Linked DNA regions of Homo sapiens. The protein of the gene in region 2 interacts with the protein of the main gene of each other region in a biochemical or structural test. Each region holds a gene or a part of one and is shown on either strand. Other genes may lie near its edges.

Region 1 (9,632 bases), on a different chromosome or scaffold from region 2:
TACAAGTATATAGAAGAAAATTGCTTTTTTCATTTTGATCTTGTATCTTGCAACTGTTCTGAACTCATTTATTAGTTTTTTAGTGGATTCCTTAGGATTTTCTATATATACTATCATGTTATCTGCAAATAGAGTTTTATTTCTTCCTTTCCAGTCTGGATGTTGTTTCTTTCTTTTTCTTGCTCAACTGTTCTGGCTAGGACCTCCAGTATGATGTTGAATAAAAGTGAGGAGAGCACGTATCCTTGTCTTATTCCTGATGTTAGGGAGAAAGCATTCAGTCTTTTACTATTAAATATGATGCTAACTGTATTTTTTTTGGTAAACATCTTTTATCAGATTAACAAAGATTCCATTTGCAGTTTGTTAAAGCTTTTTTTTTTTAAATCACAAAGGGTGTTATATTTTGTCAGATGCTTTTTCTGTGTCTGCTGAAATGATCATGTAGTTTTTGTTTTTTAGTCTATTGATATAGTGTATGGATTTTCAGATGTTAAACCAACCTTGCATTCTTGGGATAAATTCCACTTTATTATGATGTATAATCTTTTTTTTATGTTTCTGGATTCTTCCTACTAGTGTTTTGTTGAGAATTTTTGCATCCATATTCATAAGAGATATTGGTCTGTAGTTTTCTTTTCTTGTGCAATCTTTGTCTGTTCTGGGTATCAGGGTAATACTGGCCTCACAGAATAAATTGGGAAGCCTTCTCTCGTTTTTTATTGTTTGGAAAAGTTTGTATAGAGTTTTTGTATTTATTCTTTAAATGTTTGGTAAAATTCACCATTGAAGCATTTGGGCCTGGGCTTTTTCTTTGTGGGTGTTTTTTTTTTTTAATTATTATTACTAATTCAATCTCTTTTTTTGTTTAAGTCTATTTAGATTGGTGAATTCCTTCTGGAGTCAGTTTCAGTAGTTTGTGTATTTTTAGGAATTTATTCATCTCATCTAAGGTTTCTAATTTATAGCCATGCTCCTCACCTTTACTGTTTTTCCTATATAATCTGTTCTCCACAGGGTAGCCAGAGTGACTTTAAAAAAATGCAAATCTCATTATGACTCACCCCTGCTTATAGCTCTTCTGTGGCTCCTCTGCTCTTAGGATAAAGATTCATATCCTATAAGGCTCAGCATAGCCTGGCATCCGTCACCTCTCTGGGTTCATTACCCTGTTTTCCCTTTGCTCCAGCCACAGAGAACTATTTGCAGCTCCTGAACATGCCACATATCACAGGTGTTGTTTCCTGTGCCAGGGTCTCTTCCTTTGGTGAAACCCTGCTTCCTCTTCATGGTCCAGATTAAAACATCACTTTCTCTGGGAAACTGTTCTGACTCCAGTTCCTGTTTAAGCCTTCCCCAGCTTCCCCCGCTCTCTTAGAGCATACACCGCTGTATTTTGTTGCTTGTTAACATAGCTGTCACTTCACAGAGGCATCCTTGTTTACATATTGGTCTCCATCAAAGACAATGGTTTAATCTCCACAGCCTGGACCTGGCAAAATCCCTGCAGTGAATGTGGATCTGAAATGAAGTTTTATTCTAGCAGTTCCCATCTCCCTCATCCTACGTAGCCTCCCATTTAAATTCATCCTCCTCCAACCATCCAAGTATTTTCAGAATACAGATCCTAATCATTACCTCCCTGCAGCTTCCTGCATTTGTATATAATGATATCAGCTGACACTGTGTACTTACTATGGCCCAGGCCCAGTGCTGTGAAAGATGGGCCTGTGTGGTCTCATTTAACACAAACAACGAGGTAGCTGTTACTAACTCCATTAATTAGATGAGAAAACTGAAGCTCAGAGACTTGACCAAGGCCACACAGATGATAAGTGACATAGCAGGGACTTGAACACAGGTTGGTGTGATCCTAGAACCTGTGCTCTTCATCACAGTGCCACACCATGTTATGCCTTCTTTGATGTCTTCTGATTCACTGAAAAAATGTGTAAAACACAATCAATCTTGTTTCTTAAGGACCAATAGGAGAGAAATCTAAGGCCAGCCATGAGCAATCCAAACAGTAGGCAAGTCCAGAGGCTGCACAGCATGGAGTAGTGTGGGACTCACTTTCAGGACCAGGAGAGAAGCACCTCTCACAGCACTATGAGGCCCTGAAGATGGCAAAGGAATCCTACCTTGGCTGGCTGAAGTTGGGAGTGGCCTCTGCCCTCCTCCTTTTGGGCTCATACATTGGGCAGTGAAGTGGCTACCAAGCCAGGGAAGGCTGCCTGGAGGCATAAGGTAAAGAAGAAGGCACCTAAGGAAACTCTAGACAGGCCAGGATCCGTCTGGCGCTGAGATGCCAGGCAGAGTTGAGGCTGGCTATAGATGATCCTGGCATGGACTATTTGGACAGAACAAAGAATCCTAGGCTGGCTGCTACCTAGAGATACACAGGGAGACACGTTAGTGATGGAAGCTGGAGAGCAGGGAAGGGAACAGGGGAAAACTGGCCTTCTAATCAGGACAGAGGTAGGGGCTGGTGGTGTTTGTGTAAAATGAGTCTTCCAGAGCACCTCCTATCCTGGACAGGCAACCTCAACAGAGGGCTGAGGCCTCAGACAGTGTTTCTTTTCCTAGAAAGCCCAGTTTCTGTCTCTTTTTTTTTGAGACGGAGTCTCGCTCTGTCGCCCAGGCTGGAGTGCAGTGGTGCGATCTTGGCTCACTGCAAGCTCCGCCTCCCAGGTTCAGGCCATTCTCCTGCCTCAGCCTCCCGAGTAGCTGGGACTACAGGTGCCCGCCACCACTTCCAGCTAATTTTTTGCATTTTTAGTAGAGACGGGGTTTCACCATGTTCGCCAGGATGGTCTCAAGCTCCTGACCTCGTGATCCACCCGCCTCGGCCTCCCAAAGTGCTGGGATTACAGGAGTGAGCCACCACGCCCGGCCAGTTTCTGTCTCTTGGGTTTAACTACGCCCCTCACCCCAAGATTGACCAGCAGTAAAAGGTAGACATTGAATGGAGCTTATTAGAACATTTATTTTTTTCTGAATGACAGGCCGGGAGTGGGAGTAGCTGAACAGGGCATGTTAGTGGTGTGAGTGCTGGCTTAAGCGAAGGAGCTGGAGTGGGGGTTTGTGTTGGGGGAGCAGTGGGATGGGAAACACACCTGTGGGGCAGCTGAACTAGAAAGAAGGATGCCCAGGATAGCTATGAGACACCTACAAAGCATGGGAACCCAGTTCCCCTAAGCCCACCCCATCCCCAGATCCCTTTTTTTCTCCCTTAAGTTAAAAAAATTCCTTGAGGCAGCTTAAGTCAGAGGCTGTAAGGGTCAGACTGGTCACAGGTTAGACAGCAGAGTTTGCTCCGGCCAGCAGAGCCACGTTCTGGCTGGATGGCAGCTCAGGCCTCCTCAGCTGTGGCATCAATGCCCGCGTAAGTGAAGTTCTCAAACAGCGACATGTTCACATAGGCCTGGGGGCAGAGCAAGCTTTAGTGGGGGCCAGGAATGGGGGTGCATCTGGCCTCAAGCTCCTGGACTTCCATGTGGTGGGGGCATTTGAACTGACACTGATTTGTTCTGGAGACCTAAGATGGCCCCATGGCCAAGAGTGGCCTTTACCAGCCCAGGGCAGTGAAGGCATCAGGCCACAGTTGGGGCCTCAGGTGAGAGGCTCTCAATGCCATTGTTAGAGGAGGGTTTTTACATGCACTCTTTCAATGAATTCTTGGCTTATGCGTTCATTCATTCAGTAACTTATCTGTTCAAAAGCCATTTTAGACGACTCATCCATTTATATGGTTATTTGATCATTCCTTCATTCTTAAGATGGTTATTTAATCATTAATTTACTTGAAGAACTCTTCATATTTACTAATTTTGATATATTTTTCATTATATTTATTTGATAATTCACTTATTCACATGGTTAGTAGATTGAGTTATTGAATTACATGTTCATATGATTATTGTATCATCTATCCACTAATTCCATTCATTCATTCATACGGTTACTGTATCACTCATTCACCCATCCATCCATCTGGTTAGTGACTATTCATGCACTCTGCTCTGGCTCTGGCAGGTGGGGAGAGGTGTCCCAGATGAGGACAGGCTGATGGCCTCAGCAGAGGACAGGCAAGCAGTCTGGGACTTGGGGCTTAAGGTAGGGATTTGCTGTTGGGGCTAAGCAGTGGCCTTGGAAGAGTTTTGGAAGGGCCTGGTGTCTAAACCAGTGAGGGCTGGAAAGGCAGGCTGCATCCTGGGGCCCAGCCTAGCCGTGGTGACAGCCCCCACTGAGGGAGGTTGGGCAGGCAGTGTGGTTGGGACAGGGGTCATGGCACCTCTGAGAGGGCACTCTGGAGCACTCTGTGAGCCCAGCCCGCCACCTCAGCCCCAGTCTCCTCACCTTCCTGGCTTCCAGCATGCGGCCTAGCTGTAGCGCAATCTGGGCAAAGGGGGGTCGCTCATAGGGACGGTCCCGCCAGCACTGACGCATCAGCTCGTACCTGCGAGGGGGCATTGCTGAGATGAGGAGTCAGGCCAGCTGGGGTGATGGGGTCACAGGGATCAAAGCTGAGGTCACTCATCACAGAGATAGGATCATGGAGCTCAAGGATGGGGTGACTCACACTTCATCGTCACAGTTTCGAGGCTGCTCCATGCGGTAGCCCTGGGGCAGCTTTTCATAGAGCTCGGCACAGGTCATGCCACAGTAGGGTGTACCTCCTGCAGGAGGGGACAAAGTGCTCTCGGTCCAGGGCTCCACGTGGGGTAAGGTGGGGCACTCTGGGGGACGGGGATCAGGAACTCACCAAGGCTCACTATCTCCCAAAGAAGGACTCCAAAGGACCAGCTGAAATAAGAAGGATGCACTTAGTTACCTTCTAGGCCCTGGTCCCTAGCAGTTTAGCTTCTACCTGCCCAAGATGTGCAGTGCCTCCCAGCCCCGCTGTATGTGTCTACTCTGTAAGTATCTGGCCTTGGCCAGCTGTTGTCTCTGCGCCAATGAAGCTCCTTCATACTGCCCCCATCCCTGGGCTCAGCACAATTAGAGCTCTTTTGTTTTGTTTTTTTTTTTTTTTTTTTTTTGAGACAGGGTCTCACTCTGTCACCCAGGCTGGAGTGCAGTGGCTTACTGCAGCCTCAACCTCCCAGGATCAGGTGGTCCTCCCACCTCAGTCTCCCTTGTAGCTGGTGTGTGCCACCATGCTCAGCTAATGTTTTGTATTTTTATTTATTTATTTATTTATTTATTTATTTATTTTTTGAGACAGAGTCTCGCTCTGTCGCCCAGGCTGGAGTGCAGTGGCGAGATCTCGGCTCACTGCAAGCTCTGCCTCCTGGGTTCACGCCATTCTCCTGCCTCAGCCTCCCAAGTAGCTGGGACTACAGGTGCCCGCCACCATGCCCGGCTAATTTCTTTTTGTATTTTTAGTAGAGATGGGGTTTCACTGTGTCAGCCAGGATGGTCTCGATCTCCTGACCTTGTGATCTGCCCGCCTTGGCCTCCCAAAGTGCTGGGATTACAGGCGTGAGCCACCACGCCCGGCCATGTTTTGTATTTTTAGTAGAGACAGGGTCTTGCCATCTTGCCCAGGCTGGTCTCAAACTCCTGGTCTCCAGTGATTTGCCTGCCTGGCCTCCCAAAGTGCTGGGATTACACATGTGGGCCACCACAGCCAGCCGAGCTAACATTTTTATTGAGCACTTACCGTGGTCCAGGCCCTGGTCATTTAACAGACATGTTAATTCATTTAACCCTCACACCAACCCTATGATACAGGTTCTATTAGTCTTGCCATTTTACAGATGAAGACACTGAGGCACTGAGAGGTTAGCTAGATTGCCCAAGGCCATACAGCTAGTTAGTGGCAGAGCAAGCGTTCCAACTCAGGCTCCAAAGCTCTTACTCTTGACTGCATCTCACACTTTAACAGCCTCTGTGTAGTGTGCATCAGCCCTGAGACCAGGGGAGAGAGTTCAAAGGGGGTGGAGGGAATCAAGGGAGTGTTGGGGCAGAAGCACGAAGTAGGCATGTAGTGGTCAGAGGAGTGATCAGTGTGGTAAGCAGTGAGCCATGCAGGCAAGGCCAAAGGGCTTGGGGCAAGGGGTAGGTTCAGATCAAGATGGACATCCCTGGAGAGACAGGAGGAGTGTGCCAAGAGGGCTGTCTGCAGGGGAGGGGGCACAGAGAGGGAGTCTTGGGGGTCATGCTCTGGTAAGATCCTCAGGTGGGCATGACCTTGCCCTTCAGGGAGGAAGATGAGAGCAATTCCTGAGTGGCCTCTCCATCTACCTCAGGAAGCATCCGCCAGCATTCCCAAACCTCTCCAAGGCATCCCCCGTCACTTACACAAACATAATCCGAAACTACCTTTACCCCAGTCCTATTCCTGAAACACCTTCCAAGACTCCTTCCAGCAAGCCCCACCTTGGCTAGGTACTTTATACCCAAGACACACCTGTGTCACACCTGGAACACAGCCCAGGTCATGCCTTAGACCACCTATGACATTTCTGAGATATGTCTAGGTCAGGCCTGGGTGATTCTTGGGGGCCAAGCCCTCCTGTGCCCTCTCATCTCACACTCACACATCACTCTTGGTGGTATAGACACTGTAGTTCAGGGACTCAATGGCCATCCAGCGCACAGGGAGACGCCCCTAGGAGAGAATGGGTTTGAGGGGCTGAGTGTGGAGGAAGGGCCTGTTTGAGGCTCCTGTGGGGCAGGGCCAGGCACAAGCCCTAAGGGTGAGGGTTGAATGAGACTCACCATCGTCTTCTTCACATAAACCTCCTCTCCCCGAGAAAGGCCGAAGTCTGCAATCTTGGAGGCTAGGTTCTCTCCGACCAGCACATTCCGGGCAGCCAGGTCCCTGTGGATGAACTGTAGGCAGGGTCAGAAGTCAGGAGAGACTGGGGATGAGGGAGCCCAGGACAGTCAGGCCAGTAAGGAGTCAGTCTTCGTGGGTACCCTTGTTACCTTCAATACCCCATACTCCTACCCTCCTGGCTGCAATCTCGTCAGCTGACTCATATCTGAGAAAGATCAGTGTTGGCTCTCACCCGCTCGTTCCTGGGCCCTGACCAAGTTCAGGCTGGATCCCTTTTCCTGAGACAGTGGTGGCCATACTGCACCTTCTCCTCTTTCCATGCTTCTCCCCCTCCCTCTTCCCATCCCCTGGGTTCCAGTTTCTCTCCCTTAGCCCTCCAGCTTCCCCAGAGACCTCTCTCCACCAGCCCCTCCCTCTGCACTGGCCCCTTCCCCTGCCCCTCTGCTTTCAAACATACTCAAAACTTTACTATCTTTAAAATGCTGGCCAGGTGCAGTGGCTCATGCCTGTAATCCCAGCACTTTGGGAGGCTGAGGCGGGTGGATCACTCGAGGACAGGAGTTCGAGACCAGCCTGGCCAGCATGGTGAAACCTCGTCTCTACTAAAAATACAAAAATTAGCTGGGTGTGGTGGTACATGCCTGTAATCCCAGCTACTCAGGAGGCTGAGGCAGGAGAATTGCTTGAACCCAGGAGGCAGAGGTTGTAGTGAGCTGAAATCGCACCACTGCACTCCAGCCTGGGCAAAAAAGTGAGACTCAGTCTCAAAAAAAAAAAAAGATAAAATGCCTTCCCTCAGACTCACACTCCCCTGGACAGTCATCCCCCTGTCCTCTCATTCAGGCCTGAGTTGACTTGGGCTTGGATCTCTGCCCTTCCCCCTCTCCGGCAGATCGCACCAGGCCCATTGCCATTAGGCACCATCTGTGGGGTGACAGCTCACACACAGATGCTGTCTCCAGCCTGGGCCTCTCTCCTGAGTTCCAGGCTAGCATCTAGACCTGCTCACTCAACACCCGCACCCTCCATACTGGAAGTCCCCACCTCCTCCAGACCTGCCCCTTGGCCCTGCCTCCTCGCTGTGCTTGCACCCACCCACACACTTGGGCCAGGAACCTCAATCCCCAGATACAATCAGGGCCGGCTGACTTCTTCCACTGACACCAGCCCAGTGGCTTCCCCCTCTGGCCTCCACCCGCCCCCACTCACACACACCTGCTTCTCACTCAGGTACTGCATGCCATTGGCCGCATCACTGGCGAAACGCAGCAGCTGCCGGGAGCTAAGGGTAGAGGCTGTCCCATGCTCTCGAGCAAAAGCTGGGTCAGTCTCTAGGACCCGGCTTTTCCGCAGAAAATCTAGCAGGTTCCCGTAGGGGGCATATTCAATAGCGATATACAAGTAACCTGAGAGGCAAAGAGACAGACAGTGGTGATTTAGACACAGGCAACCTAGGGTGGGAGCAGGCACCCGATGGTAACAGACAGGGATGAAGGAGGATCAAGGGTGGTGCACAGGTCACCAGCAGCCCCTGGCAAGCTACTCATGTGGTGGAGGTGATGGCTGAGGATGGGGGTTTGGAAGAAGGGGTAGGTGATGAGCTGGGGGCTCACCTCGGTTCTTACAGGCCCCCAGGAGGTTGATGATGTTGGGGTGATGCCCCAATTTGCACAGAACTTCCAGTTCTCCCGCAAAGTCACGATGGTCATTTTCAGAGGCATACTCTGTGTAAAGAATCCAATATTATTTTGCCAGAAATAACTCTGGAGAAAGGGCTGGCAAGGGCTGGGGTCAATTGCTGGAGGAAGCCAGGTGGGGCCTGGGATTTGTGGGACAAAGGAGAGCATCAGGGCTGGGCCAGGGGTCGCCCCAGTGGACCTTTCAGCATTTTGATGGCTGCGTTCATCTTCAGCCCGTCCTTCTTGATCATGGCCCGGATGACCTGGCCGAAGTTCCCCTCCCCGATGAGGTCCTCAAAGGTGATGTCCTCCCACTCTAGCACTGGGTAGCTCAGGGGCTCGGGCTGCAGTTTTGGCCGCCGGGTAAGTGTCAAGGTCCCTGAGCTGAACTGCAGGATGGTCTCCTCGCCCTTCACAGGATGAGACAAGAGGGCAGACGGTCCACGCAAGAGTCAAAGGGGGCGGAAGGAGGCACAGACAGGCACACGAGGAGGTTTCAGTGTCAGACAAGTGGGCAGAGACCCAGATGGAGGGCACCCTGGTGGTCAGCCAGGGACAGACAGGCAGACAGAGGACATAACTGAGACAGAATCATAGGTAACAGAGCCACAGGTAGGCTGCTGGGTGGACAGATGTCCAAGGAGAGAAATGCAGAGGCTGCAGCCAGGGGATCTAGTGTACGGGACTCTGGAAGGCAGAACCAGGGCTTGTGGGTAAAGTTGCTAGAAGCCACAATGTGAGTCAATGGAAGGAGGATATTTCTAACATTTAAAACAGAAAAGGATCGGAATGAGCTTCCTATGACTGTGCTAATCCTACAACCAGGCTTTTTGTTGTTGTTGTTGTTGGGGGTCACCAGGGAAGCTCTGGAGAAGATTCCAGCCTTAGGGAGTAGGCCAGGGGACATTTATTGAGCACCTACTACATGCTCAGCCCTGAGCTGCTGGGAGCCAGTGGAGGGGTTTTCTCCACAGTAGCAGAAGCAGAGATTACCCTGTCCACACACTTGGCTTTTCTCCATAGCTCTAAAATCAGGCCAGGACCTGAAAATAGCAAGACTATAACAAAGAGGAATGTCCAATTTCCTAACTCAGTAGGAGGAGGCCATCTGGGTGGGGCTGATGGTGGGAAAAGGAAATAAGTGAACAGGACCAAAGAAACTGCCA
Region 2 (11,005 bases):
TGTGAGGAGTAGGGGGACATCCAGGGAATTTTTCATTCAGCTCTGGACCTTGCATTATCAGGTTGGTATGGATCCCATAAGGAGGGATGTCAGAACCTGGGCAACATAGGGAAACCCTGTTTCTATAAAAAATACAAAAATCAGCTGGGCATGGTAGTGCATGCCTGTAATCCCAGCTACTTGGGAGGCTGAGGTGGGAAGGTCACTGGAGCCTGGGAGGTCTGGGAGGTCAAGGCTACAGTGAGCTGTGATCATGCCACTGCACTCCAGCCTGGGCAACAGAGTGAGACCCTGCCTCAAAAAAGCCTTTGCTTTGGTGGCCAGTGGCTTAAATGGGACTCAGCTGGAGGAAACAGTGGGGGCATATCACTGAGAAGTTCCCAGAAGTGGAATCAGGCATAAAGTTCAGGAGGACAGAGAGTCATTCAGAGATTCCTTGTGGGGAAGCGACCTTCCCACCAGTGGAGGTATTCCAGCACGGCTGGATGATGATTGCAACTATGGAGGGAATCTATGAAGAACCAGATGACACGTGAGATTTTTTGCAGCCCTGTGAGTGTGAATCCTGGTTCAGAGATAGCCAGGACCCAGGCTTATCTAAAAGATCCTTAAATTTCTCTGAGAGGCAATATCATGTTGTGGAGACATCATGAGTTTTGACAGCAGGGAGATCTGAGTTCAAATTCCAGCTCATTTAACTTGTAACTTTGGGCAGGATACTTAAACTTGGCATCTCAGTTTCCATATTACTAAAGTAGGTACAGTAATGCCTACTTCAAAGTGTTGTGGGGAAGATTAAATGGAATAATGGTGCCTGGAACACAGTAGGTGCTCAATAAATGCTAGTTCCTTTTCCCAAATATACCAAGAACCAGGCTGAGGAAGGGGTGAGAAACCTTGATGATCTTACAAGATCGTCATGTTTAAGCTCATCCTGCTATTGAAGAAGCAGAAGCTCAGAGAAGCCAGACTGACTTGTCCAAGTTCCCAAAGCAAGCTGGAGCAAGGCCACAATGAGTGCAGGAATTTCAACTTCTGGCCCAGGGACCCTTCCACCCAGCCCCAGGGCATAGGACAGGCTGGGCAAGTCACCTCCTTTTGCTTCTGGGTCTCTGTAAAAAGGCTGACTTGGGGTGACTGACCTTGGAAGACCCCTTCTTGCTCCTCGGATGGCAGCACCAATGACATTCTTTCCACTCCACCCAGTGGCTAGGACATGCTGAGTGCTAACCAGCCACCTCCAGATCCCATGACGTGCACCCAAATGGGGGACAGATGGTAGGAACAGGAGACACCCAGAGACTGACCGTTGGAGCAGACTCTGTAGACACTAGCCTGGGGACCCCAGCCCGCCCACTAGCTGAAGACCCCAGCCCCCACAACGGCCTGGGCCCCGAACCCACCTGTATAGCTGGTTCTCACTGCCCAGGTGGAAATGTTCGTACTGGGCATAGGCCTCGTGGCCTTCCCAGTCTTGCAGCTCCACACGCAGAGAGTAGGCTGCCCTTCTGGTGAGCTGGTGCACCACTTCATTGCCCAGCCAGTGCTCCCCAGCTGGGTCTCCGAAGCCCTATAGGGAGGGGAGCGTGGGGTGAGACTCATGCTGAGGAGGAGGCCATGTCCCTGGCTGAGGAGCTGGGCTGGGCCAGGCTCCAGGGCTACTTATACAAAACCACTGTGCTTAATGATCGAGTTCATAAGTACAGTGTAGGCAGGACTGGGAGTAGGAGCCCTCCACCTGCTAGAGGGAAAAGACTAAGGCTTTTGTAAGTGTAAAAGCCTGTTAAAAGTTATTGAAATCACATTCCTCTGAAGTTCAAGAACAGGAAAAAGTAATATTTGGTGACTACCTTTGGTGGAGTATTGACTGGGAGGGGGCACAAAGTGGGCTTCTGGGGTGCTGGGAGTGTTGTACATCTAGCACTGAATGGTGGTCACGTGGTTAAATACATATCTAAAGGCTCACTGAGCCTTACACTTTATTTGTGCGCTTAGACACATGTACGTTAAACCTCAACAAAAATTAAATAAAATATTTCAATCAGCTACATAAATAGTAGAGCAAACTTTGTTCAGTGACAGCGCAGCCACTGCAAGATTTCAGCAACACAGAAATGTAAAACTGAGAGTGTGGGGAATGTCATGTCCCAATGCCCTTGGACAGAACAAGAATTCAGCACCAAGGACAGGGGCACACCCAAGGCCCGCTCCCCAATTTAGTCACGATGCAATGCGGGTTAGCCTGATGGTTAATATTCAGGGTTCTTTTGTGTATTTCTGCACCTGGACACCCTATTCCTCCTTGCCATTTTAATGGTTGTTTAAAGCCCAATTAGTTCAAAACACTCATAACTTAATTTGGTATTTATTTTTAAGTATTCCTTAAATGAACAGCAAGCAGACGCAAATAATAGAACTGCTGTATCACTTTGTGGGTATCTTTTTCTATTTCTTTGGCTTTGAAAACTTTAAGAGCTTTTAAGTATTTTAAGTCAGCTTGGCAAAAAATCCTTTATTCAAAACCTAATTAAAAAATTGGAAAACAATCGGGCTTCTCATCTGATAAAATACATGTGATCTTTGGGCCTGCAATTCCTCGTTAATGAATCTCTCCTGCAGATATGATCATAGACGTATGAAAAGACAAGAAACTTCATTAAAGCAACGCAGTCAGGGTTGACTGGGGGGATTTTTATTCTGTCTCCTCCTTTGTATTCTTTAAAAAATTAGAAATGTATATGTATTTTTTTAAAAAAAATTAAAACAAAAATAAAGCTAAACTTTTTTTCTTAGAACATATGTCAGAACTTTCAGAAAGAACATTCAAATTCAGGTGATGGGGTCCCATAAAGCAGATGTGCACTGTCAGCTTTAGATGAGTTGATTTTTTCTGGGGGAGGAATGAGGGCAAAGCAGTCCCCTTCCAACAGCCCAGCCCCAGCCCCAGGTTTCAGAGCAGAATGGCCCCTCCCCAAGGCAGCAGGGCTACCTGTTTGTAATCCTTCCAGTTCCGCTGAAAATTCACGGTGCCATTCTCACGGCGCTGGATGAGGGTCCACCTGCCTCCACTGCTCTGCAGGTCACAGAACACCTGGAGGGGGTGGGCAAGGCACAGCTGGGAGCCCTTGGAGGTAGCCAGAGGCCAGGCCTGTGCTAGCCCAAATGTGGCTAAGCAGACAGACCCCCACAGAGCAACAGGTGAGCCTGGGGGTCCTGGGCATCAGAAAGATCCAGGCTTAAATTCCCCACCCATTGTCATCATTTTTCTAAAGTGGTGGGTAAGGAATGACCTCTCAGAGCCTTCCTCTCATTTGTAAAATGGAGATTCATACCTTAACCTCTTTGTGCCTCAGTCTCTCATCTACCAACTGGGGTTGTGAAAATTAAACGAGATGAGTCACGTAAAGTGTTTAGAACAGTGCCTGGCAGTACTAGGTAAACGGAAGCTCGACCTCTTTTTGTTGAAAGGAGAGGTTAGCAGGTGTGTGAGAAGTGTAAAAGACAACCTGGAGACAAACAGAGGCATTCTCCTTAGTATATTAAGAGGGGGTGAAAGGAAATAGAGCAATGGTAATACTAGCAATTTGAGGGCCGAGGAGGGAGGATCGCTTGAGCTCAGGAGTTTCAGACCAGCCTGGGAAACACAGGGAGACTTTGTCCCTACAAAATGTTTAAAAATATTAGCCAGGCCATGGTGGCATGTGTCTGTGGTCCCAGCTACTTGGGAGGCTGAGGCAGGAGGATCACTCGAGCCCAGGAGGTCAAGGCTGCAGTGAGCTGTGATCATGCCATTGCACTCCAGCCTGGGCACCAGAGCAAGACCCTGTCTCAAAAAAAAAAAGGGAATTATGAAGTAGGAATCTGCTAGTTGTTTCCCTTCTAGGCCTGGCTCTCAGACCCTCCCTCCTGACATCCGTGCTCTTCTCTGTCACCCTTCTTATCGGATGACTTGACCTTAAATTTTAGGACAACCTTGGGAGCCACTGATTGAAAATGGTGGCACCTCTATTAGCCCTGGTTTCTAATTTCCCACATGGAGCAGAACCCCAACTCCTGCCTTCAACTGGACTATATGTAAACTAGAAAGAAACGTCTTTGGGCTAAGGCCCTGGAATTTTGGGGGTTGTTTGTAATATCAGCTATCATCATCTTAACCAACACTGAACTATTTTGTGCTGTTCCAGTTAAAGCACCTCTGAAGTGATGCTGGTTAAGGATGCACTTCCAACTTTGGGAACTTCTGCTTATCCCCACAATCTGATCCCTGACTGCTGGGAAGTCAAAGCCACCCCTACACCTCTGGTATTTCAGATACTGGACAAAGCCTGATCCCGATGGGGTGCGGGGTGTCTGTTTGGGAAGCCCTTGGCTCAGCACCCTCTAACAGCCACAGTTCCCAGGGAGCCCCCTAACCTTCCTGGGCTTCGTTGCATTGGACACCTGGATGGTGTAGACACCACTGGCACTGGCCCCAGAGCGCTGGATCTCTGCACAGTCCTGGAACACCTGCTCACCTGCCATTATGAAGGCTGCAAAGGGACAACACAAAAGTCAGTTGGAGGTGGGCAAGGAAAGAGAGAAGGGGCCAAGTGGGCATGCCTGCCTGCTTTGTGCCAGGTTCTGGGTTGGGAGGTGCTGGGGACAGGGAGATGAGTCAGACCTGGGAAGATTTCGTAGAGGAGGTGACAGTAAGCTGGAACCTGTGTAATGAGCAGGAGTTGCCCAGTGGAGAAGGGGAAGGTGTTCCAGGCGGAAGAAACAGCATATGCAAAGGCCCCAAGGTAGGAAGGGCCCTAGTGTGTGCAGAGGACAGGGCATGGGGAGGGGAACTAAGGCTGAGGCCAAGGAGAGGAAATGACTCACACCGTGAGAGAGGAGTTGAGACCAGGGAGGCTGCTTGCTGTATGATGCAACTGAGAGGGTAGAACAAGGCTGGCACAGAGAAGGTGGGGAAGGAAAAGGAGAGACGAAGCTGAGATTTCAGCAGGGCCAAGTCAGCCGTGAGTGCCAGGCTGCGGAGCCCAGATTCTCTGGGCTGAGAAAGAGCACTCTGTCCAGAGTGTGGAGGGGGGCCTGGAGGGGATGAGACTCAAAGCTGGGAGGCCAGAGAGGAGGCTGCTAGAGTTTTCTGGGAGAGAGTTACTGGGGCCTGAACTCCAGTGAGGCACTTCCCATTTCACAGACCAGGAAACTGAGGCCCAAGAGTGAGGCAACTGGCCCAAGGGCACACAGCCAGGTAAGGCAGAACCTTCCTTCTTTGGAGCTCCCTTGGGTGGGAAGCTGTGGGCTCCCCTTCATAGCCCACCCTTTTGGCTGTATCTCCCTGCTGCCCTGGGCATATGCTCCCTTATTCTGTCCTCCCTTGAAGCTGACTGCTGGCCTTAAAGGGCCCCTGTTTCTTCCCTCTGGACTACATGAGATCGGGATAGTATTAATGACTAAAACCTACCAGGGGTTTCTAGGCCTGGCCTGGAAAAAGTGACTGTTGACAAACAAAGTGCAGAGATTTAAAATCTCCTCTGTCTCAATTAGTGGAATCCAGTTAGAGGTTTGAACTATGATTCTACCAGAATCCAATCTCTCTGGGTAGCCAGGTACCCAGGATGGGGCTAAAATTCCAGATGGATAGGTTGTCAACACCAGTGAGGAACCAGGAGGCTACCACAGGGTGGGACTTCCTGGTTTGGCTTTACATCTGAACTTCAGGGATCCCAGATCCTGGATCTGGGGCACTTGTCCAGAGAAGGCTATTGCTCTCATGTCACAAATGAGATGACTAAGACCCCCAAATCAATTCCAGTTCACTCACAAGCATTTCCTGGGCAGTGGAGACCCCTGCCCCACCTGTTGGCACCCCCTCAGCTCCCCACAGGGAATTGGAGTCCAGCCAAGCATGAGGAGGCTGTTGGCCTCAAGGTGAGCAGGGATGGGCTGAACCTCACCCAGTAAGGCAAGGACAGAGCCAGGGTTGGCCTGAGATTTCCAGCCACCCTTTCCAAGGCTCTGCTCACTGTTATTTTCCTTAGTCTACAACAATATCAATAACAATAACAACAATAATATCAACACAAAAAGTGAAATACTCACCATGTATTGTAGTGTTTCCAAGGTGTCATGTAATGCCAGGGGTAGTTTGGGGCCAGGAAAAATATTTTTGGGAGGCATAAGAATAGGATGGACTGATATTGATATGCAACAGTTTGATCTGGTCCTCCTCTGAATATCTGGGCTGGTAATTTGTACCAGTTTCCCTCGCTTTTGTGCATAGGCACTGTGCTGAACCCTTTTGTATGCATGAACTCATCCGATTCTCTGTGCAAGAACTCTATGAGATTATTATTCCCGTTTTACAAGTAAGAAAAATTGAGGCTCTGAGAAGTTAAATAAATGACTTGTATGAAGTTCCAGTGCTAATTAATAAGTGAAGGAGCCAGGGCTTGAACTCCGGCCCATCTGACTGCAAAGCCAGTGCCCTTCCTCCTACACATCTTCCTTTGGATTTCCACCACTGAGCATATGTAAGGTTGGGCAAACAGCCTGCATGAACAATCGCTGCTTTTATATCATGCACAAGTTTGGTCTTTTCTGCCTGTGCCCATGTCCTTGTAACCTTCTGAACCAAACTCCCCAGTGCCTGGGAACATCAGAAGACTTGACTCTCTTCTCCTTTCACTAGCCTCCACCTGACTGGGACAAAGCCATGCAGAGAGCTAGTGCTCCCTTCCTGCTAGACTTCAAGGATGCCTGGTTCCTGTGCCCCATCTCCATCCAGCCCTCTCTTCTACACCTGGTGACTGAGCCTCTCCTTCAGTTTCTCCATCCAGAAGGGGGTGAAAGCAACTGCCTAGTGTCCTTCCCTGGTGATAGTGGAGCACGGGGGACAGGGTGTTTGGGCAAAAGGTGCCCAAGGTGAGGTGCCCAACACAACCTCCTACTCAGACGATTGAGCAGACATTCAGCCTCATCTGGGGACTGGGTTACCAGTGGGTTAGTGGGAGGCATTGGGCCCAGGCCCTGTGCCTTGGGCTGAGCTACAAGAAACCCACACATGGGATGAATTCAGGCAGCTCAAGGCCAGGTCTGTGCATACGCCAGTAATAGGTTCAGGTTAATCCACATGTCGCGATTTGGAAGGTGTCTACTTTTCCTACCTGTAGCTTCCTTAGGCCTCAAACCCCTACTCAGCTGGGTCTGCCAGACTGAGATGGAGCCAGGGTGGAATCTTCTGCCCTCAAATCCCTGTCAGCCCTGGTGGTGCCGGGAGCGCCATCACTATTGGGTCTTAAAGGCTTTCCAGCCTTCCACTATGGATCCAGGAGCAGCAGTAGCCCCTTTGGTCTTTCTCTCTCATCAGGACATCTCCACTCATGGTTCCAGTCAGAGCTTCTTGAAAGTAGTCCCACTCTGTTCAAAAGCCTCCCATGCCCCCTGCTAGCCTCAGGCTAAGAGCCCTTCTCCTTCGCACAGCCTTTGGACCTGTCTATTTTTATGGTCTGGAAACTTCAGGAACACTGATAGCTGAGCATCTGGCACATATTATGCACTCAAAAACCATGTATTTCTTTCTCCTTCCCTTTGGGACCCGTAAACCAGGGACTGGACATTTTTGCAAGAGACAGGAGCTGTGACTGTGCATTCACTGCTGTATCCCCAGCACCCAGCACTGGGCCTGCCACACAGTAAGTGCTTAGTAAATGTTTGTTGACTGAGTGATTGCAGCTGGGGCCAAGAATGCCTTGGACACCCCAAGTAGGCCGTGTTAGAAGGAGTCAGTGAGAGCCTGGGAGCCCAGCCCAGAATTGTTTTCTTGACCCAGAAGCCAGGGCCAGGGATGCCTCTTCACTTCTGTTTGGCCCTCTTGGGCTTAGGGGCAGGGGCATTAAGATGAGAGAGGTCCTTGGGGTGCATTGAGTCTAACCTCCCAGTTCCTCCCATTCTACAGCCAGGAAAACTGAGGCCCAGGGAGGGGTAGGACAAGCCCAAGAAAGTGGGGCTGGAGAATGAATCCTGGAGACCAAACTTGTCAGTCTGGATTGCTGTTGCCCTCATCCTCGCCTCCAAAACCCATGGGTAAACTGAGGCCAAGAGAGGGGCAGGGGCATGCCCAAGGTCACCCATGGAATCAGGGGACAGGGCCTGGATTGGGATTGTTGTTGACGCCATTATTACTGTTTATTGTTGTTTCTATTTCACAGATGGTCGGGGAGGGTGGGGCCCGCAATGGCTCCCAGGCGCCCAGAGACCCTGGAGGGTGAGCAGGGTCTCCCCTCCCCTCTCCTGCCCGTCTTTAGCCACACTGGGGCGCACACCGCTCACTCACCCGGGGCCGAGGCGTTAGCCCTTTCTTGCACCAGGTGCCGCAACAACACCAGCAGCTGGCGCAGGCTGTGCTGCTGGTCCTGCAGGAGGCTGGAGTTGTGCCTGACACCGCGCAGGCCGCGCTCGATGTTGGTGAGGGCGGCGCTCTGGCGGCTCAGCGTGTTCAGCAGCTTCGCCTTCTTGCTGAGGATGCTGGCCAGCTCCTCCTGCTGCTTGGTCTCCAGGGCCTGCAACCGCTTCTCGAGCGCGCTGCGGGGTAGGGGGCGCACAGAGGTGAGCCTGGCATCCTCGCGAAGCACGCACCCCCGCGCGCCTCCCCGGCCCTGGAGTCCCTGCAGCCCGACGATGAGACTCAAGTGTGGTGGAACGTCCTGTGCCCACTGTAGGCACAGATTGAGGAGGGGAGAAAAGAGATACCCGGCCCTGGAGTAATATAGATTGAGGTTTAGTGGAAGAAAGAGGTGGTGTGGGAGGGACACCAGCAACTGGGTAGCTATTATCAAATCCCAACTGTGCTTGCTTTTTGACCCAGCAGTCTACTCTCAGGAGTTATCCTCTAGGGAGCATGGTCAAGAATGGCCCTGGGGACTTGCTTGTAATAGAAAAACAAACTAACCAACCAACCAAAAAAGATATAGCCTAGATGCCCAAAAGCCAGGACTGGCTGAATCCGTTGCGTTTTGGCGTCCCTGGAAATGTTCCGCAGTCATGAAGGAGGAGGCATTTGCACAGAATTGGAAAGATGCCCAGGACTTGGGGCACATCAAGCCTAACCCCATGTGTGGCAAGAGAAGAAAGAAAGTATTAATGTAAATAAAGAGAAATGGGGTGAACATATAGGAGAAGGCTGGAAAGACCGCAGTGGTGCCTGTGTTTGGGAAGAATATGAAAGAAATTCCCTCAAGTGCTGTGACTTCTGCAGAGCAGGTTTGAGTGGATGAAGATGGAGAGGAGGAAGATGGGGGCAGGATGGAGGGCCCAACTTTCACTTTTATTTTGTACAGGTTCCTGTTGTCCGATGATATTATAATAATCAAGAGACATTTTTTGTAATGGATTTAGAAGCAAAGAGGAGTTTTTCAAAAGAAAGCCTTAGACTCAGCTCTTTCTTTTTGGACATTTTATCCTCCAGATTTACTCACATGTGTGTGAAATGAGATATGGAAATGTTACTCATCGTATCACTGGTTGGATTAGTAAAAGGCTGGAAGCAACCTCAATATCCATTAACTGGGGACTGGAGGAATAAAAGCAGGGACCACATATGGTGGAGCATTATAAAGGTGGAGAAAAAAATGAGCAAGCATGTCATGCAGTTATAGAATCTTTCCAAGGTAACTGAATAATAATTTGTAGAAACAAGGTATAAACAAGTAGTAGGCTACATTTGGGCTTAAAAAGGATAAAAATGGGAATGTACAGATGCTCCAAAATGTATGATGGGGCTATGTCCTAATAAAGCCATCGTAAGTTGAAAATGTCCTAAGTCAAAAACTCATTTAATACACCTAACCTGCTGAACATCCTAGCTTAGCCTAGACCATCTTAAACATGCTTAGAACACTTACATTAGCCTGTGATTGGGCACGATCATCTAGCACAAAACCTATTTTATAACAAAATGTTGAGTAGCTTATGTAAGGTATTGATATTGTACTGAAAGAGAAAAACCGAATGGTTGTATGGGTACTCAAAGTACGGTTTCTACTGCATGTGTATCACTTTCATACCACTGTTAAGTCACAAAATTGTAAGCCCAACCATTGTAAGTTAGCAATCTTCTGTATGTATGTGTTTGCATATTCATAAGAAACCCTGGAATGTCAGCTTATAGGATGTCAGCTTCACGAGGACAGGGGCTTTTGTCTCTTTGTTCACTTCTGTATCCACAGTGTCTACAATAGTGCCTGACACATGAAAAGAGTTTGAAAAATAATTGTTGGTTGAATGAATGGAAGGATACACAAGAAACTAGGAACAGTGGCTACCTCTGGCTTGGGTGGGTGGCTGAGAGACAGGGCTGGGAGGGAGACATTTTACTGTATATCCACTTGTGCCAACTCATTCTGCAGACTAAGAAATTGAGTCCAGCTAGGGCAGAAGAAATTTCCTCTGGACTCCCAATTATGCTGCAGGAAAAGAGAGAATTGGGGCACACTGAAATTCTAGAATTCCTGCCCTGTCTTCATGGGCCAAGAGTTTACCGATGACATCCTCCATCCTCACTGATTTCTAGACACCTAGTGTTAATTTAGAGTCATTGAAAGTGTCCCAGTCCTTGCCACTGAGACCTTGGGTTGGGAGAATAAGAAGATGGGCAGATTGTCATTAATTGCACCCAGATTAGAGAGAGCTGGGGGATCTTATGGCCTTATCCTGAACCGGCATGTGAACAACAACATCTTGCCTGATTCACAGGCCTGTGGCTTGTTCAGTGGGTAGATTTTGCCTTCTCCAGAACCCTGACTTTGGCAGCTTTTTTTCTTCACTCAGCTTGAAACTGAGGTGAAATCAGCCTTAGCTGCCAGATTTTTCTGCTTTATCTAAACCTCATGACCGCTTTTTTTTTTTTTTTTTTGTAATTTAAAGGGTGTTCCCCTGATGCCCATTTGCTTATAAATGCAAAGACTCTCTGATAGTGTGGACAAGAACCTGGTAACTGTGGTTGTTTCTGGGAAAGGAATCG
Region 3 (11,829 bases), on a different chromosome or scaffold from region 2:
TCTCGGACTCCTGATCTCGTGATCTGCCCACCTTGGCCTCCCAAAGTGCTGGGATTACAGGCATCAGCCAACGTGCCTGGCCCAATGTAATATTATTATTTCGATGTTACTGAGATCCTTTCTACAATGTTCTCTTTTCCTTTCAGCTCCGCTGTGAAGTACCAACATTTTCTTACTGTGACCATAAAACTCCATTCAACAGAAATTACTAAACATTAAATACATGTACTAATGAGAATAGAAAAGAAATAATATCTGTTGTGAGAGATTTAGAGGCTAATTGGGCTAAATCTGGCTGCCCAAAGCTCAAAGACACAATCTGCATGGTAAAGGAGCCTAAACTTAGGGGAAGAACATCAGGAGGAAGAGTTGGCCTGGGCAAATTGAGTTGAATTGTGTTTGCAGAGTAGAGATGAAAGATGCCATTTCTAAATGGATGGAACAGCATGAACAAGAGCCAAGAGGAAAGAATGTGTAGATTGTGGAGATGGGCCTGGTTGAAGCAGACAAGATACAAACAGGGATAAATGGATAAGTGAGGGGAGGGTAGATGGGTAGTTGGCAAAGTGTTTGGGTTTATTCAGTTGGAATTGGCCAGCACAAAGTTTGAGAGACAGGATTATACTGAGGTTTTGTAGAAAGAGACAGCATCTATGAATATTAAGTGGTTCTCCTACATCCTGGGGCAGATTAGATCAGTCTTGACTAGCACAGTGGTTCTCATAGCAACACTTCTCTTTTGATTATACTAGCTTCATTATTTATTTTATTTTATTTTATTTTATTGAGACGGAGTCTCACTCTGTCACCAGGCTGGAGTACAATGGCGTGATCTCAGCTCACTGCAACCTCTGCCTCCTGGGTTTAAGCGATCCTCCTGTCTAAGCCTCCCGAGTAGCTAGGACTACGGGCACACACCACCACACCTTGCTAATTTTTGTATTTTAGTAGAGATGGGGTTTCACCATGTTGGCTAGGATGGTCTTGATCTCTTGACCTCATGATCCACCTGCCTGGGCCTCCCAAAGTGCTGTATTACAGGTGTGAGCCACAGCACCAGGCCCCAAGCTTCATTTATTAAGAGAGTTCTCACTGGCTAAGCATTTCACAGGCATTATCACATTTGATTCTCATCACAACCCTGGAAAATGGGTATTTCATCCATAAAAGATGAGAAAAATGTGGCTTAGAGAAATTAAATAACTTGCTTATGGTTATCCAAGTTGGGCTTTGACTTTGTAATCCATGTTTCCTCCTTCAGTTTGCCTGCTATGTTCGCTGTTAAATTTCTCAGGTCTTCAGTGCTTCATGGATGTGCTCTTAGCAGTAGATTTCAGTGAAGTGATTACCATTTCTGATTTGGACTTCATATTTCTGCTAATACAACATATGACAGCTTATGCAGTACCTTTTTAGCAAGCAGAGCCTATGTTGTCTTCCATGACTTTTGTGTATCCCCAAAACCTAGGTGTCATTCACAAGAACTTTCAACAAACCAGGTCTCTCCCACATTAAATATACATAACTTATTTCTTGAACCCAAACACAGAACCAGACATTTACCTATTTTGAAATGGTATCTTTTTGTTTTGGTTTTCCACCCTTCCAGCCTAGAACAATCTATTTAAATCCTGATTCTGTGAGCTCACCAGTAAGCCATCTACAGAGAATAAGCAGGTGATACAATCACACAGATATCCTTTGGGGAGATAGAGGCTCAGGAGGCAAACTGATAATTTCAGAAGAATTTAGAGCCCACCCACCTAAATTCCCCAGAGAACATCACATAGTCTTTTGAGATGAACTTAGAAGACTCCTTCCCTCCTGGAGAGACGCCTTGGAAGAACTAGACTCTTCCAGGAAGCTCTCCCAGGGCAGGGCTGAAAGGGAAATGCTGAGACCTAACAAACAATAAAGACAATGCTTGGAAGGGAGCATCTGTGAAAAAAGCAAGCTCCTCCCTCTGAGAATAATTCCAAAGGGTGTCTCCGATCCCAGCTTTCAGACCTCCACCCTTGATTACTCAGACTTGACACTAGCCTTCTGAGACCAGCCCTAACAAGGGGGTTTCATCTGGGAGCACTTCCCTGACCTTACAACTGTTTCCTCTGCCACCCCAGACAAGATGTCTGCTATCTCTGAATCCAGTTGTTATTTAAAATGTCAAGTGACAAGGGCGGGCGTGGTGGCTCATGCCTGTAATCCCAGCACTTTGGGAGGCCGAGGCGGGCGGATCACTTGGGGTCAGGAGTTCGAGACCAGCCTGGCCAACATGGTGAAACCCCGTCTCTACTAAAAATACAACAAATTAGCCAGGCATGGTGGCGCACGCCTGTAGTCCCAGCTACTCGAGAGGCTGAGGCACAGAATCACGTGAACCTGGGAGGCGGAGGTTGCAGTGATCTGAGATCACTCTACTACATTCTAGTCTGGGTGACAGAGCGAGACTCCATCTCAAAAAAAAAAAAAAAAAAGTCAAGTGACACAGTAAAGAGGTATGAAAGCATGAGACTAGAGACTTCCTATTAGATCATTGTTGATCACGTAGAAGATACTATGATAAATCACAGTGATTTTTTTGTTAGTTTTCTACATATACAACTTTTTAAAGAGAACAGCCTGGTTTTATGAGGAAGAGTAGGGAAAAGCTAATATAATAGAACCTGTTTGAAAGCTGAAGTTAGCAATGATTCTCAATTCAGAAAAGGAAAGCAACAGAATCTAGGAGTATTTGTAAGGAGCTTCTGAGAGCTACACATCCCCTCCAGCCCTCTTATGGGTAAACAACTCTGTCATCCAGAGCCACCTTCACTAAAAAAAAGTGGCTTTTTTTTTTTTTCAGTCTGTGGGTTCAGAAAAAAGAAACAAGAAACAACCCACTGGACTAGAGAGATAAACCTTTAAGCCATAAGCCCCTTGCTCCACTGCTTTAGTCTACCAGGAGTTTGACTAGAGGAACGGGCTCCTATGGCTGTGGACATTATCTAGCTGGATTCTTGTTGCAATTATCAAGCCTTGAGCAGTCATGCTCATGGAGGCTTAGACTAGGAATGCAAGCTACGATCAAGACAACAGACCTACCTCAGAAACTAACCTTGCTAGTGTCACCCTTCCTAACAAGAACATGAACCTACTTCCTCTCCTTGGTCCTCTGCCTTTTAAAGGCAGTGCTGTTTTTTCCAGGGATCTGAGGTCTAGACATGGAACAAGTATTTTGGCTACATACCTTTTTGTTTGATTTTATGACAATTCTTCTAAGCCTGTATTGCAAAGTGCTATAACACAGTTGCTTTAGGAGTAAAAAAAGTGAATGAAAACAGTTGTGTGTGTATTAACCTACAAAGTACCTCAGAGAAACTATAGACACCTGGGCTTCACATCACTATAATCCCTGGTATAGAGTAAGTTCCAGATTTCATGTCACTGGTAAATAATGGCACTCAGAAAAAAAAAAATCAAAAATGGAATCATGATAATTATTTGAAGTACATATTATTGGAGAAGTCAACATTATTTAAACAATTTCCACATAAATACTGAAGCCACCTAAAATCTTTTAATTTTTAGCAACTTGTGTTACACATTCTTAAAGAATATTATTAAATTCTCAAAATATTGGTTGTTGAGAGCTATAAAACAAACTGTATTCAACTCAGTTATTTCATTGGATTTGTTTTTTGAATATTTAATAAAATAGTTCAAACACCTAGAAAATATAGCAGATACTTATGTATACTCGAATCAAATTATATTAATATGCCCTATATCCATGAAGTTTAGTGAATTTTCCCAAATTCATCTCCAATATCAATTCGATTTTCGTTATTAAAATTAGAATGTTTTCAAACCGAAGGGGAGAGACTGATGGCAATGATAAATGTATTTGTGATATGTAGTTCAGGTTTGGATACTGCCTTCTACCTATGTCACATAGGCTGAGTGAGCTACAGAGGCACACCACTATCTGGAGTATCTAAGCAATAAACACGCTGAACCCAACACACTGGCCAACCACTCCTTCACTCTACAACAGGCTTCATATACTCTCCTGTGTTAAAGATTTTGGTAACTGCCTAAATTTTTGTTTCATTGGGCCAGTAAACCCTTTATGAATTACTACATGGCAAACATTTTTTAAAATAAAACAAAAATTCTAATAGCCCCAATCTCCCTGACCCTAACTACAAGAAAAAAAAAAAAGCCTACAATTTCATTGCTTTGCTTAAAATAGGATGTAGATATAAAATCTTTTTACAGAAAAGCATCTTTGTTCCCTTTTAACAGTGACAATCTATACACTGCCTTAATTGGGCCCCTGTATTTCTCAGCATGAATTTCATTTTTTACTGAAGATTTTCTTTAAAGCAGGTAAAACCGGTTTGTTCTTTAAAAAAAAAATCAATAAGAAAAACACTCCAGAATGAGGAGCAGGAAAATAATGCATGATAGTAAGGGGATCTCTTCAAATAAGATGATTTAATCGGTCCTCAAAGAGTTTCTAACACAGGGGCCAATCACCCAGAAGACAAACTAGCAAAATCAGTTCATGCCACAGAGCCTTTGCATTTCAATCCTTCCACACATATTGACTGGAGACTCACAGAGAAATGGTGCCTTTGCTACAGCCACCCCTTGTTCATCAGCACTGATGAGATTTGGGGAGAGCACCCAGAAATCACTAACTCTGTTTTTTAAAATACTAAATTAAAAAAAATAAAGCCAAACCTTACCAGAAAGGAGCAAGCTGACTCCACAGAGAACTAAGCTGGCTAAAGAGTCCATGCTTCCCCAAATCTCTCCATCCAGTTTCCACAAATGTGCATGAGGTCCCAAGGATCCTTTCAAAAACCCAGCGGTTTGTGACTTTCCATTAGCATCGTCCTACTACGTCTTGTTTACAAGTTAGAGGCAAGAAGGAACAGCACAGAAGCAGGCTGTAACAGTCTCATTTCTGTCTGAGCACAGGGAGTTTTAAGTTCCTTTTTCCTGTTTCCTTTGTAGATTAGGATGGGAAAGGCTGTATCTTAAAGGCATTTGGTATCAGCAGGGCTGGGGGCACTCAAGCCCTATCCATCTCGCAATTCATCAAAACACTTATCTGTTGCTGTTGCTTCTGCTGCTGCTTTTGCTGCTGCTGTAGGGGCAGAGGAATTTTTGTTGGAAGTGTGGGTCCCGGTCAGCATTTTCAGAAACAATAGGGGTATCCTCTCATAGGCGGGAAACTGAGAATAACAAGCCCTCCACCTATGTATGGTATGCGATGATGACCAATCCTTCTCAGACTTCTAACAGCTCTCCCGGGGCTACTGGGATCTCTGACAGAAGGAGCTTTTGGGTGTGGGAAGCCGTTTTGGCTTTTGTTTTCTCATTTTAACCCACATGGTTTGAATTGGGAGAAGAAGGTTTCCGTGATGAGAAAATACAACCTGAAAAGCAATTAATTTCAGTGAGCACCGGTGAGGTCAATGCTCAATGTAGCCCCAAGAGACCAGAGTCCAAAATTGTTAGCCTGTTTTCTTTCACACAGATGGCCTGTTGGTTGGCCATTAGCCCAAAGATACCCATGTTGCCGGCTATAGCTTTAATTTTCATTAACAATTCATCTAAAGGTGATCAAATTTCTTGAAGAAGTTGGCATAGAAGGATTTTGGTAATGAGAAAGATTTGGTAGTCATTGAGCAATGGTGTTTCAGAAGCAAATTATATATAACATTTAAAAACTAATCTGTGTAAAAACACAAACATACAGGATTAGATTGGGATAAAAATGGTGCTCATGAGAGCAAAGAGAGTTCATGGACCAAAATGAAAATAGCCATGGAATGTACAATATCTAGAATGAGGTCAGAGACCCTACACTTATCCAGATAATTACTCCACAATATGAATTATGACATTAGATTAGAGAGTATACACTTTGCTCATCATCGACCTTCATGCCTGAGGAAATCATTATACTCCTCCTTTTCCTACCCACCAGAGGAAAAGGCAGATGCAGCTAGTCTTGACTAATTTCTGTCCCAGGTTTTATCACATCGATGATGATCTTAAGAACCAATTAATGTTTCCAGTTTGCAGGTGTGAAAAAGCCCAGGTTCTGTCTGCAAACAGAACTGGGTTCAAATACTGGCTCAGCCACATGTGTAGCTGAGAAAAGTTACTTAGTCTTTTTGAGCCTCAGTTTCAACAGCTGTGAAATGGCAAAAATATCTCCTTCCCAGGTGTTTTGAGAGGAATAAATGAGGTTTAAAAATATAAAACCATTTGGTACTATGCCTAGTTCTTTGAAGGTTCTCATTAAATGTTAATAAGTTTATTTTCTTTCATCTTTCCATTCAGTCTCAATTTAAATTCCAAGAGCTTCTACTAAAAAGCTATTTTCTATTCCTATGAGATGACTTTAAATTTGTCATCACGAAAAAAAAAAACAAAAACAGTGGGCCTGGCACAGTGGCTCACGCCTATAATCCCAGCACTTTGGGAGTGGATCACCTGAGGTCAGGAGTTTGAGACCAGCCTGGCCAACATGGCAAAACCCCATCTCTACTAAAAATACAAAATTTAGCTGTGCTTGCTGGCGTGCACCTGTAACCCCAGCTACTCTGGAGGCTGAGGCAGGAGAATTGTTTGAACCTGGGAGGCAGAGGTTGCAGTGAGCCGAGATCGTGCCACTGCACTCCAGCCTGGGTGACAGAGCAAGACTCTGTCTAAAAAAAAAAAAAAAAAAAAGAAAAAAAAGAAAGAAAAATGAAGTTCCACACAGGCTAAGTTACTTGCTCTGCTGTGAGTAGCAGAGGTAATAATATCTGAATCCTGAGCTCTGGACCTCCAATTTTTCCCTTGTTTCATAGTTGAAAAGTAGATCAAGAGTAATGTAGGACATCACAAACACCAGCAGGGTACACCTAGACCTTACAGAAGTATTTGAAATGAAACTTTGACAGATAAGAATAGTTTGGTGACACTGAGAAGTGCGGTCAGTTCTTAGTGTGCTTCTGAAATAACTAATGTCAGGATCGGTGGGTGCTGTATTAATTCACTTCAGGAAAATGAAAGGGGCCTCCTCATGAGTCAAGCTCATTCCATTTAATTTGATTTTTCCAGACATACCTACAGTAAAAGCATAAAGAAAACCAAACCAAACTAAACAAACAAACAAGGCTCTTGGCTGATTCTTCATTTTCTATTTCCTGCTTTTTGCACTCAATACATGAAAAACACTATAGACAACATTAAAAGTCTTTGAGACTAATTAACAAAGGTATCAATAGATAACAAAACGGTTTTTCTGAAAGAGGTGGAAAATAACTTACATAATACTACTATACACTGGTATCACATGTCAAGAGGTCAACATCACAAACACAAAGCAAAAGCCTTGTATGCATACCCTTTGGCCCAGAAAATCCAGTTTTTTTTTTTTTTGAAATAGAGTCTCACTCTGTCGCCCAGGCTGGAGTGCAGTGGCACTATCTCGGCTCACTGCAACGTCCGCCTCCTGGGTTCAAGCGATTCTCCTGCCTCAGCCTCCTGAGTAGCTGGAATTACAGGCGTGCACCACCACACCCGGCTAATTTTTATACTTTTTAGTAGAGATGGGGTTTCACCATATTGGCCAGGATGGTCTTGAACTCCTAACCTCATGATCCACCCCCCCCCCCCCTTGGCCTCCCAAAGTGCTGGGATTACAGGTGTAAGCCACTGCGCCCCACCAGAAAATCCATTTTTATGATATACACCAAGCCAAAATCAAATATGTGCCCCCAAATTTGTGTATAAGGACATTATAGAAGCATAGTTGATAATAATCAAAGCCTAGAAATAATCAAAATGGTCAACAAAAATGGATTATTTATTAAAAATCATGGTATACAATGAAGTTCCAGACAAGTGTTCAAATACTATGGTGAAATCAGATTGACATAAAAAGATGTGAAAATGTTTATGGTATACTGTTGATTGGGAAAAAAACACAATTTAAACAGAATGAAATTTATACACACTGAAATACACACCACAGATATACAACAAATAAATATCAAAGCGTTGAAAGTGACTATTTCTGAGTTGTTGGAAAACATAATTTTTATTTTCTTTTTTATACTTTTCTATAATTTTAACACTTTTAGAAATAACGAACATATATGTAAAAATGAAGAAGACTGAGGGGACGTCCTTGAGAAAGTTGACCCAGGGCAATAGGATGTATACTTTAAAACATCCACTGGCAAATAAGAAACAGAATCCAGGCTACCATATGACCCAGCAATCCCACTGCTGGGTATACACACCAAAGAAAGGAAATAAGTACATCAAAAATACATTTACACTCCCATATTTGCTGCACCACTGTTTACAATACCTAAGATATGGAAGCAACGTAAGTGTCCATCAATAGATGAATGGATAAAGAAAATGTGGAACATCTACACAGCAGAGTACTATTCGGCCATAAAAAAGAATAACATCCTGTCATTTGCAACAACATGGATGGAACTGGAGGTCATTATGTTAAGTGAAATAAGCCAGACACAGAAAGACAAACATCACATGTTCTCATTTATTTGTGGGATCTAAAAATCAAAACAATTGAACTCAGGGAGATGGAGAGTAGAAGATGGTTACCAGAGACTGAGAAGTGTTGTGGGAGGGTGGGGGAGGTGGTGAGGATGGTTAATGGGGACAAAAAAAGCTACTTAGAAATAATGAATAACACCTACTATTTGATAGCACAACGGGGTGACTATAGGCAATAATGACTTCATTGTATATTTTAAAATAATGTAATTGCATTGCTCATGACACAAAGGATAAATGCTCGAAGGGATGGATACCACCACATTCTCCATGATGTGGTTATTTCACATTGCATACCTGTATCAAAACATCTCATGTACCCCATAAATATATACACACCTGCTATGTACCTACAAAAATTTAAAATTAATAAATTAATAAAATAGGATAATTTTAAAAAGAAACAGAATCCAGATACATAAAGTGTGGCCTCCAGGAGGTGACCAAGAAGATGGGGTGTCAGCCACCTACAGTACAGCCCGGACATTCTGTCTTTCACTGGTCTGTGGGCACTGAGCCACCAGAGCCATCCCATCTGACTTCTTAAGGACATTAATGAACTTTTTTGTGAACCCACTGTACATAACAGTGGCTAGCAGAAAAGGAAGGGTCAGGCTAGGCATGGTGGCTCACGCTTATAATCTCAACACTTTGGGAGGCCAAGGAGGGCGGATCACGAGGTCAGGAGTTCGAGACCAGCCTGATCAACATGGTGAAACCGTGTCTCTACTAAAAATACAAAAATTAGCCAGGCATGGTGGTATGTGCCTGTAGTCCCAGCTACTCAGGAGGCTCAGGAGAATTGCTTGAACTTGGGAGGCGGAGGTTTCAGTGAGCCGAGATCACACCATTGCACTCCAGCCTGTGGGATGGAGTGAGACTCCATCTCAAAAAAAAAAAAAAAAAAAGAAAAGGAAGGGTCATCAACAATTAAGTTTTGGCCTTCAGCCAGGACACCACAGTTAAAGGGACAACATCCACTCTGGTTTGGCTGTGGAAAATACCTGACCCTCTCCAAACCCCATTTACTCTAAACCCTCTCAGCTATTGCAGCATTTTTCTTTTTCTTTTGTTAACATTGAAACGGCAAGGACTATATTATTCACCGTAGGAAGAGACACAGAAATAGAAGATGTTGTCTCTGCTTTTGAAGCTCATAATTACAAAATCCCAGCGTGGTGGCACTGCATCAAAACAGGAAAAGTTAAATCACAAAATCAGGCATTGTGCTGTTGAATACCAAAGGGTGGTACAAGGAATAAAGTTCTAGCAGTTGTTTGCTTTTGTACCCTTTAGACTAGAGAACACCAATTCTCATACTTTTTTTTTTCTTTTCCTGGTATTTCCTAGACACAGGTGGCATCTTTCCAGATAGACTGTAAGCTCTTAGGGCAGGAGCTCTGTACTTTATTTCGAATCATCCTATGCCTTCTCTCAATGGCTTAAGAGAAGGAGTAACCTGGATGTCTTTGCAACCATTGTGAGGTCATGTGGCCGCAGATAACATAGACTAGGTATAGATAGAATAGATAGGACACAGATACAGGTATTCCCCTGCCTTGAAAAAAAAAAAAAGCTTTAAAAATGATAAAATAACATGAAAAGAAAAAGTAAACTCCTATTCCTCCTTCAAAATACAATCCAGGCCGGGCACCGTGGTTCATGCCTGTAATCCCAGCACTTTGGGAGGCCGAGGTGGGCAGATCACTTGAGGTCAGGAGTTCGAAACCAGCCTGGCCGACATGGTGAAACCCCCGTCTCTACAAAAATACAAAAGTTAGCCAGGTGTGGTGGTGCATGCCTGTAATCCCAGCTGCTCAGGAGGCTGAGACCGGAGAATCACTTGAACCCAGGAGGTGGAGGTTGCAGTGAGCCGAGATCGCGCCCCTGCACTCCAGATTGAGGACAGAGTGAGACTCTGTCTCAAATTAAAAAAAAAAAAAATTCAAATGTCATCTCATCTATGAAACCTTCCTCTTGGTAGCTACCAATACCTAACAAACCACCACATAATGTAGCAGCGTAATACAACAATCATTTATGTAGCTCGTGACTCTGTGGGTCAGAAGTTCGGGCTGCCCTGCACAGTTCCCCTGATCTCAGAGGGCCTCCCTCATGTGTTCACAGTCAATTGTCAGCCATTAAGGTAGTTCAGCTTCAGGTATGGGCTGACTGCCTGTGTGGCAACCAGGATGGCAGAGCTTTAACTCTCTCACCTTCCAGCAAGCTAGTCTGGCTTCTTAACGTGGCAGGCTCAGAAATCCAATAGAGTGGAAATAGACAAGTTCTCTTGAGGCCTAGGCTTAGGATTAGCATATCATTACTACTGTACATTCTGTTGGCCAAATCAATTCATATCACTCAGACTGCATCTAGGAGCGGAAACATAAACTCCACCTTTTGATTTGAAGAATTATAAAGTGTGAAACTAAAATAAAATCAAGAATTTTGGTCATTTTTTTCAAAAAGGTTTGTTGGAATATAATTTATATACAGTAAAATTCACCACCTTTTCAGAAAATTGTGGTGAAAACATACATACCATAAAACTTACTATCTTAACTGGTTTTAACTGTACAGGCCAGTAATGTTAACTATACTTACATTCTTGTACAACAGATCTCTAGAACTTTTTTGTCTCGAAAAACAGAAACACTATATCCATTGAACAACTCCCCATTTCCCCTCCCCTAACCCCTTCGACCACCATTCTACTTACCTCATACAAGTAGAATCCTGCAATATTTGTCTTTTTTATGACTAGCTTATTTCACTTTGTATAATGTCCTCAAGGTTCATCTAAGTTGTAGCATGTGACAAGACTTCTTTCTTTCTAAGGCTGAATAATAGTCCATCATATGTATATACCACATTTTCTGCATCCATTCATCAGTCCGTGGACATTCAGGTTGCTTCCACCTCTTGGTTGTTATAAGTAATGCTGCAAAGAACATGAGTATGCAAAGATGTCTTCGAGATCCTGCTTTTAATTCTTTTGGATATCTACCCAGAAGTGGGGTTATGAGATTATACGGTAATTATATTTTTAATTTTTTAGGAATCTCCATACTGTTTTCCATAGCAGCTGCTCCATTCTGTGTTCCCACCAACAGTGCACCAGGGATCCAATTTCTCCATATCCACTTGCTGTTTTCGGGGTTTGTTGTGGTTGTTGTTGTTGATGATGATGATGTTGTTGTTGGATAGTGGGAATCCTAACAGGTATGAGGTGGAAATTCACTCCATTTAAGT

Evidence for each region.
Region 1: the proteins of ANGPT4 (region 2) and TIE1 form a complex in vitro, tested with the Homo sapiens proteins (one study listed by BioGRID).
Region 3: the proteins of ANGPT4 (region 2) and TEK form a complex in vitro, tested with the Homo sapiens proteins (2 studies listed by BioGRID and IntAct).

Annotation. Positions count from the first base shown.
Region 1 is NC_000001.11:43,316,443-43,326,074, reverse strand, and holds the end of TIE1 (tyrosine-protein kinase receptor Tie-1 isoform 1 precursor), read right to left. Parts: intron 8,877-9,632; coding exon 8,666-8,876; intron 8,512-8,665; coding exon 8,401-8,511; intron 8,194-8,400; coding exon 8,003-8,193; intron 6,841-8,002; coding exon 6,727-6,840; intron 6,617-6,726; coding exon 6,546-6,616; intron 4,807-6,545; coding exon 4,766-4,806; intron 4,680-4,765; coding exon 4,583-4,679; intron 4,460-4,582; coding exon 4,360-4,459; intron 3,425-4,359; coding exon 3,353-3,424; 3' UTR 2,967-3,352; downstream 1-2,966. UniProt on the Homo sapiens protein: Transmembrane tyrosine-protein kinase that may modulate TEK/TIE2 activity and contribute to the regulation of angiogenesis.
Region 2 is NC_000020.11:876,758-887,762, forward strand, and holds part of ANGPT4 (angiopoietin-4 isoform 1 precursor), read right to left. Parts: intron 8,569-11,005; coding exon 8,321-8,568; intron 4,530-8,320; coding exon 4,414-4,529; intron 3,092-4,413; coding exon 2,990-3,091; intron 1,571-2,989; coding exon 1,404-1,570; intron 1-1,403. UniProt on the Homo sapiens protein: Binds to TEK/TIE2, modulating ANGPT1 signaling. Can induce tyrosine phosphorylation of TEK/TIE2. Promotes endothelial cell survival, migration and angiogenesis.
Region 3 is NC_000009.12:27,102,544-27,114,372, reverse strand, and holds the start of TEK (angiopoietin-1 receptor isoform 1 precursor), read right to left. Parts: upstream 5,149-11,829; 5' UTR 4,783-5,148; coding exon 4,731-4,782; intron 1-4,730. UniProt on the Homo sapiens protein: Tyrosine-protein kinase that acts as a cell-surface receptor for ANGPT1, ANGPT2 and ANGPT4 and regulates angiogenesis, endothelial cell survival, proliferation, migration, adhesion and cell spreading, reorganization of the actin cytoskeleton, but also maintenance of vascular quiescence.